Homo sapiens: one gene and its partners. The protein of the gene in region 2 purifies or fractionates together with the protein of the main gene of each other region. This does not show direct contact. Each region holds a gene or a part of one and is shown on either strand. Other genes may lie near its edges. The genes, in order: PTPRA, SP4 and VRK3.

What was found.
Region 1: the proteins of SP4 (region 2) and PTPRA purify together in Homo sapiens (affinity purification with mass spectrometry; 2 studies listed by BioGRID and IntAct, with this or other methods). This does not show direct contact.
Region 3: the proteins of SP4 (region 2) and VRK3 purify together in Homo sapiens (affinity purification with mass spectrometry; 2 studies listed by BioGRID and IntAct, with this or other methods). This does not show direct contact.

What each region holds. Positions count from the first base shown.
Region 1 is NC_000020.11:3,023,334-3,027,081, reverse strand, and holds part of PTPRA (receptor-type tyrosine-protein phosphatase alpha isoform 1 precursor), read right to left. Parts: intron 2,611-3,748; coding exon 2,461-2,610; intron 396-2,460; coding exon 302-395; intron 1-301. UniProt on the Homo sapiens protein: Tyrosine protein phosphatase which is involved in integrin-mediated focal adhesion formation.
Region 2 is NC_000007.14:21,426,341-21,430,088, forward strand, and holds the start of SP4 (transcription factor Sp4), read left to right. Parts: upstream 1-1,742; 5' UTR 1,743-1,911; coding exon 1,912-1,918; intron 1,919-2,336; coding exon 2,337-2,452; exon of another isoform or gene 2,453-2,563; intron 2,564-2,948; coding exon 2,949-3,748. UniProt on the Homo sapiens protein: Binds to GT and GC boxes promoters elements. Probable transcriptional activator.
Region 3 is NC_000019.10:49,990,657-49,994,404, reverse strand, and holds part of VRK3 (serine/threonine-protein kinase VRK3), read left to right. Parts: intron 1-1,452; coding exon 1,453-1,545; intron 1,546-3,748. UniProt on the Homo sapiens protein: Plays a role in the regulation of the cell cycle by phosphorylating the nuclear envelope protein barrier-to-autointegration factor/BAF that is required for disassembly and reassembly, respectively, of the nuclear envelope during mitosis.

The DNA of each region.
Region 1 (3,748 bases), on a different chromosome or scaffold from region 2:
TTGTCCTCTCCCTCTCCTTGCATTGCTCCCACCTCAGGCCCTGGGCAGACAGAATCCCAGCTGGGCAAGGACATGTCTGTTCCTAGCTCATTAGGGAGAAAGCCTTTGGCTTTTACGTTATTTCCAGAAGCCACTAAGGTGCAACAAAAGGCAACGCCATGTTGTTAAGTGGGTGCAACAAGAGGCAATGCCATGATTCTTGTCTATACGCCAATCATTAACTAGTACCTGAGAAATGGAAGGGGTGGAGGGAATTGAGGGATGGGGCAATAAGGCTTTGGAGTGGCGGGAGGGCTCTTACATGGAATGATCTGTAAAACACGGTTCTTCTTCATGTTGGCTGGAAGGTTTCCAGTCCGCATCTTGTCATTCTGGATTTTGATTGATGTTAACTTCTGAATTGGGAAGGGGAGGGGAAACATTACTGATCCCAGTAACTGAACTTGACAAGATTATGCCTGTCCCTTGGCCTGCACCTCCAGGCCACTCTGGCTCCATACTGCTCTTCTCACCAGGGCCCTGACCTCTGTTCCCATATGTTCAGCTGGAACCCTGAAGCCAAGAGACTGTTTGGGAAATGCTACCTTCCAGGCTCCTGTGGACTCTCTTGAGATTCTCCTGGCTTGGAATTTTGTGATCCTGGAGCAAGGGATTCCAGCATCGTAGGAGGGAGTGTGTCCACTCTGCAGTTCCACCCCCAGAGGCTGCCTAAGGCTCTTCAAAAAAACTTATTCAGAATTGCATCCTCCCTTCCCGATTGAGGCTCCTTCTTGACATTTGCTACTCAAAGTGTAGCCCATACACCAGCAGCGTTGGCTTCACCTTATTAGAAATGCAGAATCTCAAGCCGGGCGTGGTGGCTCATGCCTGTAATCCCAGCACTTTGGGAGGCCAAGGTGGGCAATCAACTGAGGTTAGGAGTTTGAGACCCGCATGGCCAACATGGTGAAACCCTGTCTCTACTAAAAATTAGCCGGGGGTAGTGGCACGTGCCTGTAGACCCAGCTACTTAGGAGGCTGAGACAGAAGAATCCCTTGAACCCGGGAGGCAGAGGTTGCAGTGAGCTGAGATCGCGCCATTGCACCCCAGCCCGGGTGACAAGAGTGAAACTCCATCTCAAAAAAAAAGAAAAGAAAAAAAGAAATGCAGAATCTCAAGCTCTAACTCATACCTGCTGAATCAGAACCTAATATCTTTTTTTTTTTTTTTTTTGAGACAGAGTCTTGCTCTGTCACCCAGGCTGGAGTGCAGTGGCACAATCTCAGCTCACTGCAATCTCTGCCTCCTGGGTTCAAGTGATTCTCCTGCCTCAGCCTCCCAAGTAGCTGGGATTACAGGCATGTGCCACCATGCCTGGCTAATTTTGTATTTTTAATAGAGACAGAGTTTCTCCGTGTTGGTCAGGCTGGTCTTGAACTCCTGAGCTCAGGTGATCTGCCTGACTTGGCCTCCCAAAGTGCTGGGATTACAGGCATTAGCCACCGTGCCTGGCAGAACCCACATCTTGACAGGATCCCAAAGAAATCTGTGCACATGCTATATTTGAGAAGAACTTCTCTAAGTGGTCCTCCCCACCCCAACCCAGAATCTCCTGCTTCTGAGAAAGCACTTTTTTTTTTTTTTTTTTTGAGATGGAGTCTCGCTCTGTCGCCCAGGCTGGAGTGCAGTGGCATGATTTCGGCTCACTGCAACCTCTGCCTTCCGGGTTCAAGCAATTCTCTCGCCTCAGCCTCCTGAGTAGCTGGGACTACAGGCATGTGCCATCATGCCTGGCTACTTTTTGTATTTTTAGTAGAGACGGGGTTTCACCATATTGGCCAGGCTGGTCTGGAACTCCTGACCTCATGATCCACCTGTCTCAGCCTCCCAAAGTGCTGTGATTACAGGCGTGAGCCACTGTGCCCAGCCTGGGAGAGCACTTTTACTGATGACAGTGTGACATATGCCTTAGGTGTGTTGAGAACCATTGTCTAGTGGCATATAGGAGCTATCAGTGATCTAAGGTCCAGAGGCCAAATCTGGCCTGCTGCCTGCTGCCTGCAAATAAAGTTTTATAAAACAGCCACACTCATTATATTTACCTATTGGTTATGGCTGCCTTTGTGTTACAAAGACAGCACTAAGTAGCTGGATAGAAACCATGTGGGCTGCAAAGCCTAAAATATTTATTATCTGGCTCTTACAGAAAAAACTGCTCTTGCTGTGTATCATAATCACCTCGGAGGGCTAGGGGCCTTAAAATACTGTTGCCTGCTTCTCCCTACTCTAACACAACCAAAGTGATTCCAACGTGCAGGATGAGTTGAGAGTTACCAGAGTACGAGGAAAGGACCATCTCCTTAACCACTGGCATGCCTCACAAGGGGATTTACTGTTGGCAAATGCACAGTCAGGCATCCCATGTTCCCCAGATTACAAGGATCCTTCAATCTGAAGGAGGTTATCCAGCTCCAACTCACCTTAAACTCCTCCTCTAATCCATTGTTGCTGGTCCCTGGGATTTTGTTGTAAATTTTCTGCAGGTGGGTTTCTAGAGAGGTCACTTCCAGTTCTGTATCTCCATAGAGATAATGCTCCAGAAGGGCTTGGTATATGAAGACATACTGCATCTGAAACATGAATGACACAGAAGTTCTTGGTTACATACAACATAGTTCTCATGCCAGATCACCTGTTCCCACCCCCACTTCACTCCAGTCCATTTCTCCTTTGATCCTAGCAGGAATAAAAGGACTCCCTCTTATTATCCCAATTTAGTGAAGTGGGACTTGAAATGCAGGAGTCCCTGTGGGGGTGCTTTACTTGGGAAGAAGGGTCCAGGTCTATCTTGGGGGTGGTGGACGCCTGGAGAGAAGGACAAACTCAATTCCTGTTCATTCTGAGAGTGCAGATTTAATAGTCTGAAGGGGCTGTCAGAAACTGGAGACACCCAAAGCCCGTGATAGTCTGGTCCCTGCCTCCCTCCTGGTGCTATGCCCCAACTGCAGAGCCAATCTCACTGCTGCTCCCAGATGTGGCCGAGCTTCATCATGTCTCTGGGCACTGGCTCTTTCAGCTGCCTGTTCCCTAATCTTTGAAGTCCAGTAACCTGTCATCTGCCTTCCTGACTCTCCCAGGCATGAAACCACAACCTCCTCTGTGCTCGATTTCTTTGAATACATAATTTATAAGAGCCCTTCATCACATGAAAGGGGCTAGCCCCTCCACACCTGTGGATGTTTCTCGTCAGGTGGGACGAGAGACTGAGGAAAGAAAGAAGACACAGAGACAAAGTATAGAGAAAGAACAGTGGGCCAGGGGACCGGTGCTCAGCATACGGAGGACATGCGCCAGCACTCGTCTCTGAGTTCCCTCAGTATTTATTGATCACTATCTCTACTATCTCGGCTAAGGGGATGTGGCAGGACTATAGGGTAATGGTGGGCAGAGGGTCAGCAGAAAAACATGTGAGCAAAGGACTCTGTGTCATAAATAAGTTTAAGGAAAGGTGCTGTGCCTTGATGTGCACGTAGGCCAGATTTATGTCTGACTTTACACAAACATCTCAGTGCAGTAAAGAGCAGTATTGCCGCCAGCATATCTCACCTCCAGCCATAAGGCGGTTTTCTCCTATCTCAGTAAATAGAATGTACGATCGGGTTTTACACCAAGACATTCCATTCCCAGGGACGAGCAGGAGACAGATGCCTTCCTCTTATCTTAACTCCAAAGAAGCCTTCCTCTTTCACTAATCCTCCTCAGCACAGA
Region 2 (3,748 bases):
TTCTTTATTCGAATTGCTTTGTCTTGCTGCATGGCTTTGTCATCAGCTGATTTTGCAATTACCTTAACAAGCAAAGGAAATGCCAGTCAAGTTCAGCATCTGGGACCTCCTCACCATTGCAACATGTCAGGCCTCAGGCAGGAGACAAAAATGCCCAAGGCTGAGTGTGAAGCCCAGGTAAGAAGTGAGACAATGGCTTTGAGCCTGGGGTGTAAGCATGCCTTGTTCCCAAGGCCAGTATTTACATGTGGGGTCACTTCCACCTTTGGTACAGTTAATCAGGCGCTGATTACGTTCCATGGCATCATCCTGACTTCAGGACTTTGTAGGAAAGCTGAGGCAGGACACTGCTCAAGTGCATTTGACAGTAAGATGCTTTGTGCAGCCAGATGTTAATTCCACTTGCCCTTACGCTTGCTTACGCTACACCGTAAGCGGGGCTGACCCTTATGGAGCTGGGCTTTTCTTCGCCCGGAGACTCTTGTCAGATAAGGCTTAGAACTCCGCCAACCACTTAGGCTTTTAGGCAAAACGCGATGCAACCCTTCTTAGAAGGCGGGTCACTGCTCTGCACCAGCTGCCAGCCAGAGAGACAACAAATAAAAATGGAAGATCCTTCTCCGTGAGAAAACAGGCCTCGGACTCAAAGCAGGGGGCCTGAGGGGAAGGTGAGCAAAGAAAGGCAAGGCGAGGGCGCTGCTTCAAGAAGCCGGGTTCATTCAAACCCCGAGGACAGCAAACCCCGCCTCCCCACGCCGCCGCCCGCTCAATCGCCGAGCGCTCCGGGTGTGAGCTCGCCCCGCGGGGAGCGGCTTGGAGCCGAGGAGGCGGCGGCAGAGGTGGTTTGGGCAGCCCCGCGCGGCGGATAGGCCCAGGCAAACAACACCCATTCCCCCTCCTCCTCGCTCAGTTCAACTCCCACTCGGCCCCGGCCACGCCCTGCCGCCACCGCCCCCTCGGGCAGCTTTCCGCTCGGCAGCCAGGCCTCGGTCGGGGGCGGGAGAGAGGCGGTGCCTCGAAGAAGGCACCGCGACCGCCGGAAACTACGAGTACCGACAGCCTTCGCGGTAGTGCCCCACCCCCTTTCTCCCACCACTCAGCGCGCGTCACCCTGGGCTCAGCCAATGGAGACAGAGCCAGGGAAAAAGGGCGCCCGGGTCCGGATGCGCCTCAGGAAAGCCATGCTCCCTGCGCGGGGGCAGCGGGCAGTTCACCCAGCGCGCCGACCTGTTGGTGGTCCGCGCGCGCCCACGTCCGCCGCTCTCGCTTGCCTGGATCAAGGGCCCTACTTTTTTCTTTAGTGGCAATTGGAGGGATTGCTGGAGGGGGTTTTTGAGTGGAGGGCGCTGGGAAATGAGTAGGGGGCGGGATATCCTGAGACAACAAGTTTGGCTGTATGGAGGGCCTACCGGCAGCGCTCCTGAGCTAGAACGCCGAGAGAAAGAGCGCCAGAGGAGCCAGGGAGGAGGAGAAGAGCTGCTAAAGGAATAACCCCGAGAAAGGGGGTGGAGAGGAGGCGGCCCCAGCGCCCCGGCCCCCGGCAGGTCGGCGGCCAATCCGCTGGGGGAAGGGGTGGAGAGTCGGAGGCTCCGGCGGAGAGAGGCCGAGGGGGGTGGGGAGTCGGCCAGGCTCGCACCGCCCTGGCCCCGCCCCCGACCCGCGCCGCCGCCCGCGCCGCGCGCCGCCGCTGTCAATCAAGGGCGAGTCAGCCGGGCTCGGGCGGAGAGAGGAGCTGCTACGCCACAGCCCAGCGGCGGCCATTCGCGGAAAAAGAGGCAGAGCCTGTGCCAGCTACAGCCTCCTCCGAGCCACCGCGGGCGGGCGGGACCGGCCTCTCCTCCCGCCTCGCCCCCACCCCCACCCACCTCTATCCCAGTGTCTCCGTCTGAGGGTTTGTCCTGTTAATGCGGGATGAGCGGTACGTATTCTCCACCCCCCTCAGTCTCCTTCGCCGCCTCCCTCTCTCCCTCCCTCCCCAGACCCTGCTCGGTTCTCCCCCCTCCCCCGGGGCCGCTGAGATGCTTTAAGGGGAGGAGGAGAGGGCGGGAGGGAATCGGGGAGGGAAGGAGGGTTGTGTTTTGTCTTAATGTCTGAGAGAGAACAACCTCCTTCTGGGTGTTGCTCTGGAGCCGATGGGTCGGGTTTCAAACCACGTTTTGTGATATCCCCCTCCTCCCTTCCCTCCTTCTCCCCCACCCCCTGCCGGTGTGCGTGGATCGCGGGTTTATGGAGATTAATGTTCGGGGGGAGGGGGGAGAAGAGGAGAGGAAGAAGACGAATAATAATAATCCTAATAACCTGTTGTCGTGTGTGTGTGGTGGGGGGGTTTGTTGCAGATCAGAAGAAGGAGGAGGAGGAGGAGGCGGCAGCGGCAGCGGCGATGGCTACAGAAGGAGGGAAAACCTCTGAGCCAGAGAATAACAATAAAAAACCCAAAACCTCAGGCTCCCAGGTAAAAGCAAACAAATTAAAAAAATTCATCACGACACATTAGGAGAGAGAGGGAGTTATGCCCTTTGAATGTCCAGAAGTAACAGAATAAAATGTTTATCCACTCAAAGCATCTTTCTGAGAGTGTGGAACTTAAATTGTAAATTCATCAAGTTTTCACCTCTTTGAGGGTATAACGCTGTTTAAAATTACATCAGGAATTCAGACTATAAGAAAACGGTGTGTGTGTTCCCAAGGGCATTTTGAGTTTAGGAACATAACACTTTACAAAGTTGTAAAGAAATTTCCTTTTATTTAAACTTGATATTATAGGACTTGCTTCCTTATTCATATAGTTCTTATCTACTTTTGTTCGTATTTCTTTTTGATTTCTGCTGCTTCCTAAATTGTTATGTAGAGCTGTCAAAATAAGTAACCCCCTGGCAACTACTGGCCTCCACTAAATCCGCCCACTTTTTTTCCCCCCCCCCTCTCCTTTACCGTCCCATTTTGGGTAGGACTCTCAGCCCTCTCCTCTGGCTTTACTGGCAGCTACTTGCAGCAAAATAGGGACTCCTGGTGAAAATCAAGCAACTGGACAACAACAAATTATTATAGATCCAAGTCAAGGATTGGTGCAACTTCAAAATCAACCACAACAGCTAGAACTGGTAACAACGCAACTTGCTGGAAACGCTTGGCAACTTGTTGCCTCCACTCCTCCTGCTTCAAAAGAGAATAACGTTTCTCAACCAGCCTCTAGTTCGTCTAGTTCTTCCAGCAGTAATAACGGGAGTGCATCTCCTACAAAAACTAAATCAGGTAATTCTTCCACCCCTGGTCAATTTCAAGTCATACAAGTACAAAATCCAAGTGGTAGTGTACAGTACCAAGTAATTCCACAACTTCAGACAGTGGAAGGTCAACAAATTCAAATCAATCCAACTAGTAGTTCATCTCTACAGGATTTGCAGGGTCAAATTCAGCTCATTTCTGCAGGTAATAATCAAGCTATACTCACAGCTGCTAACAGGACAGCTTCTGGGAATATTCTTGCTCAAAACCTGGCAAATCAGACAGTTCCGGTCCAAATTAGACCTGGTGTTTCAATACCACTGCAGTTACAGACTCTTCCTGGTACTCAGGCTCAAGTTGTAACAACCCTACCAATTAACATTGGAGGAGTGACTCTAGCTTTGCCAGTGATAAACAACGTGGCTGCCGGAGGAGGGACTGGGCAGGTTGGCCAGCCTGCTGCTACTGCTGATAGTGGGACTTCCAATGGGAATCAATTAGTTTCCACACCCACCAACACCAC
Region 3 (3,748 bases), on a different chromosome or scaffold from region 2:
CATTAGTTCATTCATTCATCCCCATTAAATATTCATCAGGCACTTGCTGGGTGCCAGACGCTGTCCCCGGGGCTGGGTGCAGAGCAGGGAGCAGCATAAACATGGTTTCTGTGTCTTAGAGCTCACAGTCTAGTGGGAGGGGCCAATAGTGAATCAAACAGTTGCACAAACTATGACAAGTGCTCTGAATAGAAGCGGCCCCTGCTGTGATTGAGAGTAAGAGGGCCCAGTTTGCATCGCTGGAGGGATGGACGTACCAAGGGAGCGACATGCTGAGTCCTAAGGTCTTTATGTTCAGTATCTGCAGTATGGCACTGCAGTGCGGAAGAGATGGAGTTGGTCTGGAGAGGTCAGCGGTGACCACATCACACGGGGCCTCGCACAGCAGGCTGAGGGGCTGGGATCTGTCTTGAGGGCACTGGAGAGCCACAAGAGTGCTGGGATTAGGGGAGGGCGGGGTCAGCTCTGGGTACAGAAAGGCCCTCAGGGGCCATATGGGGAGGGACTGGAATGGGGAGAAGAATCTGAGTGAGGGTCCATGTGGGAGAGGACAAGGCTGAGGAGGGTCCCGGGCCCCGGGGGTGGAGAGTCTATAGGAGGAGAACGAGCAGAATTTGGTGGACAGTAGAGCCCTGGGGTCAAAGAGGGTTGGGGATATGATCAGAATGTAGCTGACACTCAGGCAGCAGACACAATCAAAGAATTGGCCGGGCGCAGCAGCTCATGCCAGTAATCCCAGCACTTTGGGAGGACGAGGCAGGTGGATCACTTGAGCTCAGGAGTTCAAGACCAGCCTGGGCAACATGGCAAAATGCCCTCTCTAATAAAAATACAAAAAATTAGCCGGGTGTGGTGGCACCCACCTGTAGTCCCAGCTACTTGTGAGGCTGAGGTGGGAGGATCACCTGAGCTTGGGAAATCAAGGCTACAGTGAGCAGTGATTGTACCACTGCACTCCAGCCTGGGCAACAGGAGTAAGACCCTGTCTCAAAAATATATATATACACACAGCAAAAAAAGAGTCTGGAGCTCATAGGGACAGCTGGAGCTGGAGATCAAGATATAAATTGCTTAACAAGATTTATTTCTGCTCTCTAGGACAGGTGAGAAGAGCTCTTTGATATCCACAGGTGCTGAGTCATTTTTGCAGAGAGACATTAACCCCTTTTCCCTCTGCTGAGTTTGTCATCAGCTAAGAGAGAAATACAGGAGTAGATAGGAAGCCACGCTTTAGCTCAATTGATGAGCTTCCTGAGAGCCTGATTAGAGGCGTGCTCAATGTGCTGTCACAGCGGGCTCCTCATGCTACCCCGGATTTAGTCAGGTTTAACCCCCAGTCACAGTGTCGGACAACCCCAGGCCTTAATAGTGGGGCTCCCTCCTGGTCTGCACCATAGCCTCTCTGTGTTAGTCGTACTGCTCATGCAGACACTGACTTGCTTCTTCCCCCAGCTGGATGCCCTGGAGTTCCTCCATGAGAATGAGTATGTTCATGGAAATGTGACAGCTGAAAATATCTTTGTGGATCCAGAGGACCAGAGTCAGGTAAGAGCCAGCTCCTGCCCACTCTGGAAGATCTCTGGGCTCAGGTTCCCATCTGTCTCCAAATCTCTATTTATTTCATAGTGCTTATTACAGACAAAGGATTGCTGTCCATCATATATAAAGAGCTCCTTCAAATAAATAAGATAAGCAACTTAGTAGGAAAATGGACAAAGGATAAGAAAAGCAATTCTTAAAAAAAGAAATCCACAGGCTAGCTAAATAATATGAAAAGATATTCAACCTCCTTAGTAACTATAGAGATGTAACTTAAAACAAGATACTATTTTCACCCTTTGAACAAAATTAAGCATGATAATAATATTCATTGCTGATAAGGATATAAGGAAGTAGGAATTCTTCATATACTGTTGGAAGCATGAATTGGGAAACCCTTTTGGAAGGCAATAACAGTCACAGTTTTAAATGCACCTGTTTTTTGTCTTTGATTTTGTTTTGAGATGGAGTTTCACTCTTGTTGCCCAGGCTGGAGTGCAATGGCACGATCTCGGCTCATCACAACCTCCACCTCCTGGGTTCAAGCGATTCTCTGTCAGCCTCCTGAGTAGCTGGGATTACAGGCATGCGCCACTACGCCTAGCTAATTTTGTATTTTTAGTAGAGATGGGGTTTCTCCATGTTGGTCAGGCTGGCCTCGAACTCCTGACCTCAGGTGATCCGCCCGCCTTTGCCTCCCAAGGTGCTGGGATTACAGGCCTGAGCCACCGTGCCCGGCCAAAATGCACCTGTTTTTTGATCCACAAGTTCCTGTCTTAGGAAGGTGTCCTACCTATATATTCATAGGATTGTTCAAAGATAAGTGTACAAGATGTTCCTGGCAACACTGATTGTAATAGTGAAATGGGAAACACCTTAAGCGGGATACTGATTAAATAGTATTTTAAAGTAACTTCTAATTGCTCTTACAATTACAAATGACAGAAACCCAACTTTACATGCCTTAAGCCAAAAACCAAAAGGGACTGTGTGCAATGTATTAGTCCACAGAATGGAGCAATCCAGGACTGCACTGTCTCGGGCACGGCAGGATCCAGGAGCTCAAACCCTGTCATTGGGAAGCCGGCTCTCCCATCTCTGGACTCCTCATGCTTCTGCACTGCTCGTTGTCAGGCAGACTTATTCCTCATGGTGACAAAATTGCCACCAGCAAATTAGGCTTAAATCCCCAAAGCTTAGCAGCCCTGGCAGAAACAGACCTGAACTGCGTGGACTGAGAACTGGGGAAAAGCAATCCCAGATGAAAATCCTGGAACTAAGCATTAGGAATCTTCAGAGAAACAGAACTGGCAGGGTGTGTGTGTGTGTGCGTGTGTGTGTGTGTGTAGAGATTTATTATAAGGAATTGGCTTATTGATAATGGAAGCTAAGCAGTCCTGAGATTCTTCAGTTTGCAATCTGGAGACCTAGGAGAGCCAATGATGTAAGTTCCAATCCAAAGGCCAGCAGGCCTGAGACCCAAGAAGAGGGGTTGTTTCAGTTCAAGTCCAAAGGCAGGAAAAGACCAATGTTCTAGCTCAAGCAGTCAGGGAGGAGGAGCTTCTGGTTACTTAGCTTTTTATTCTATTCACATCTTGAGTTGATTGAATGAGACCCACCCACATTAAGGAGAATAATCTGCCTTGCTCAGTCTACAAACCCCAATGTTCATCTCATCCAGAACACCCTCATAGACACTCCCAGAATAGGGTTTGGCCAAATGTCTGGGCACCCCATGGCCCAGTCAAGTTGCCACATAAAAATGACCATCATGGCCAGGCCCAGTGGCTCACACCTGTAATTCCAGCAGTTTAGGAGGCCAAAGTGGAAGGATCGGATCGCTTGAGCCCAGGAGTTCGAGACCAGCCTGGGAAACATAGGGAACCTCATCTGTACAAAATAAAAAATAATAACCTATCCAGGTGTAGTGGCATACACATGTGGTTCCAGCTACTCAGGAGGCTGAGGTAGAAGGATCACCTGAGCCCAGGAGATGGAGACTGCAGTGAGCCATGATCATACCACTGCACTCCAACCTGCGTGACCCAGTGAGACCCTGTCTCAAAACTTAAAAAAAAAAAATTATTTTTTTAATGAACACCACAAACTGTAAACAGAAAAACAGGGAGCCGGGGAAGTGTATATAGGTCTTACATAGACAAAACCAACAGTTGTCCACTATCCATATGGTGGAATAAGATGCAGCCAT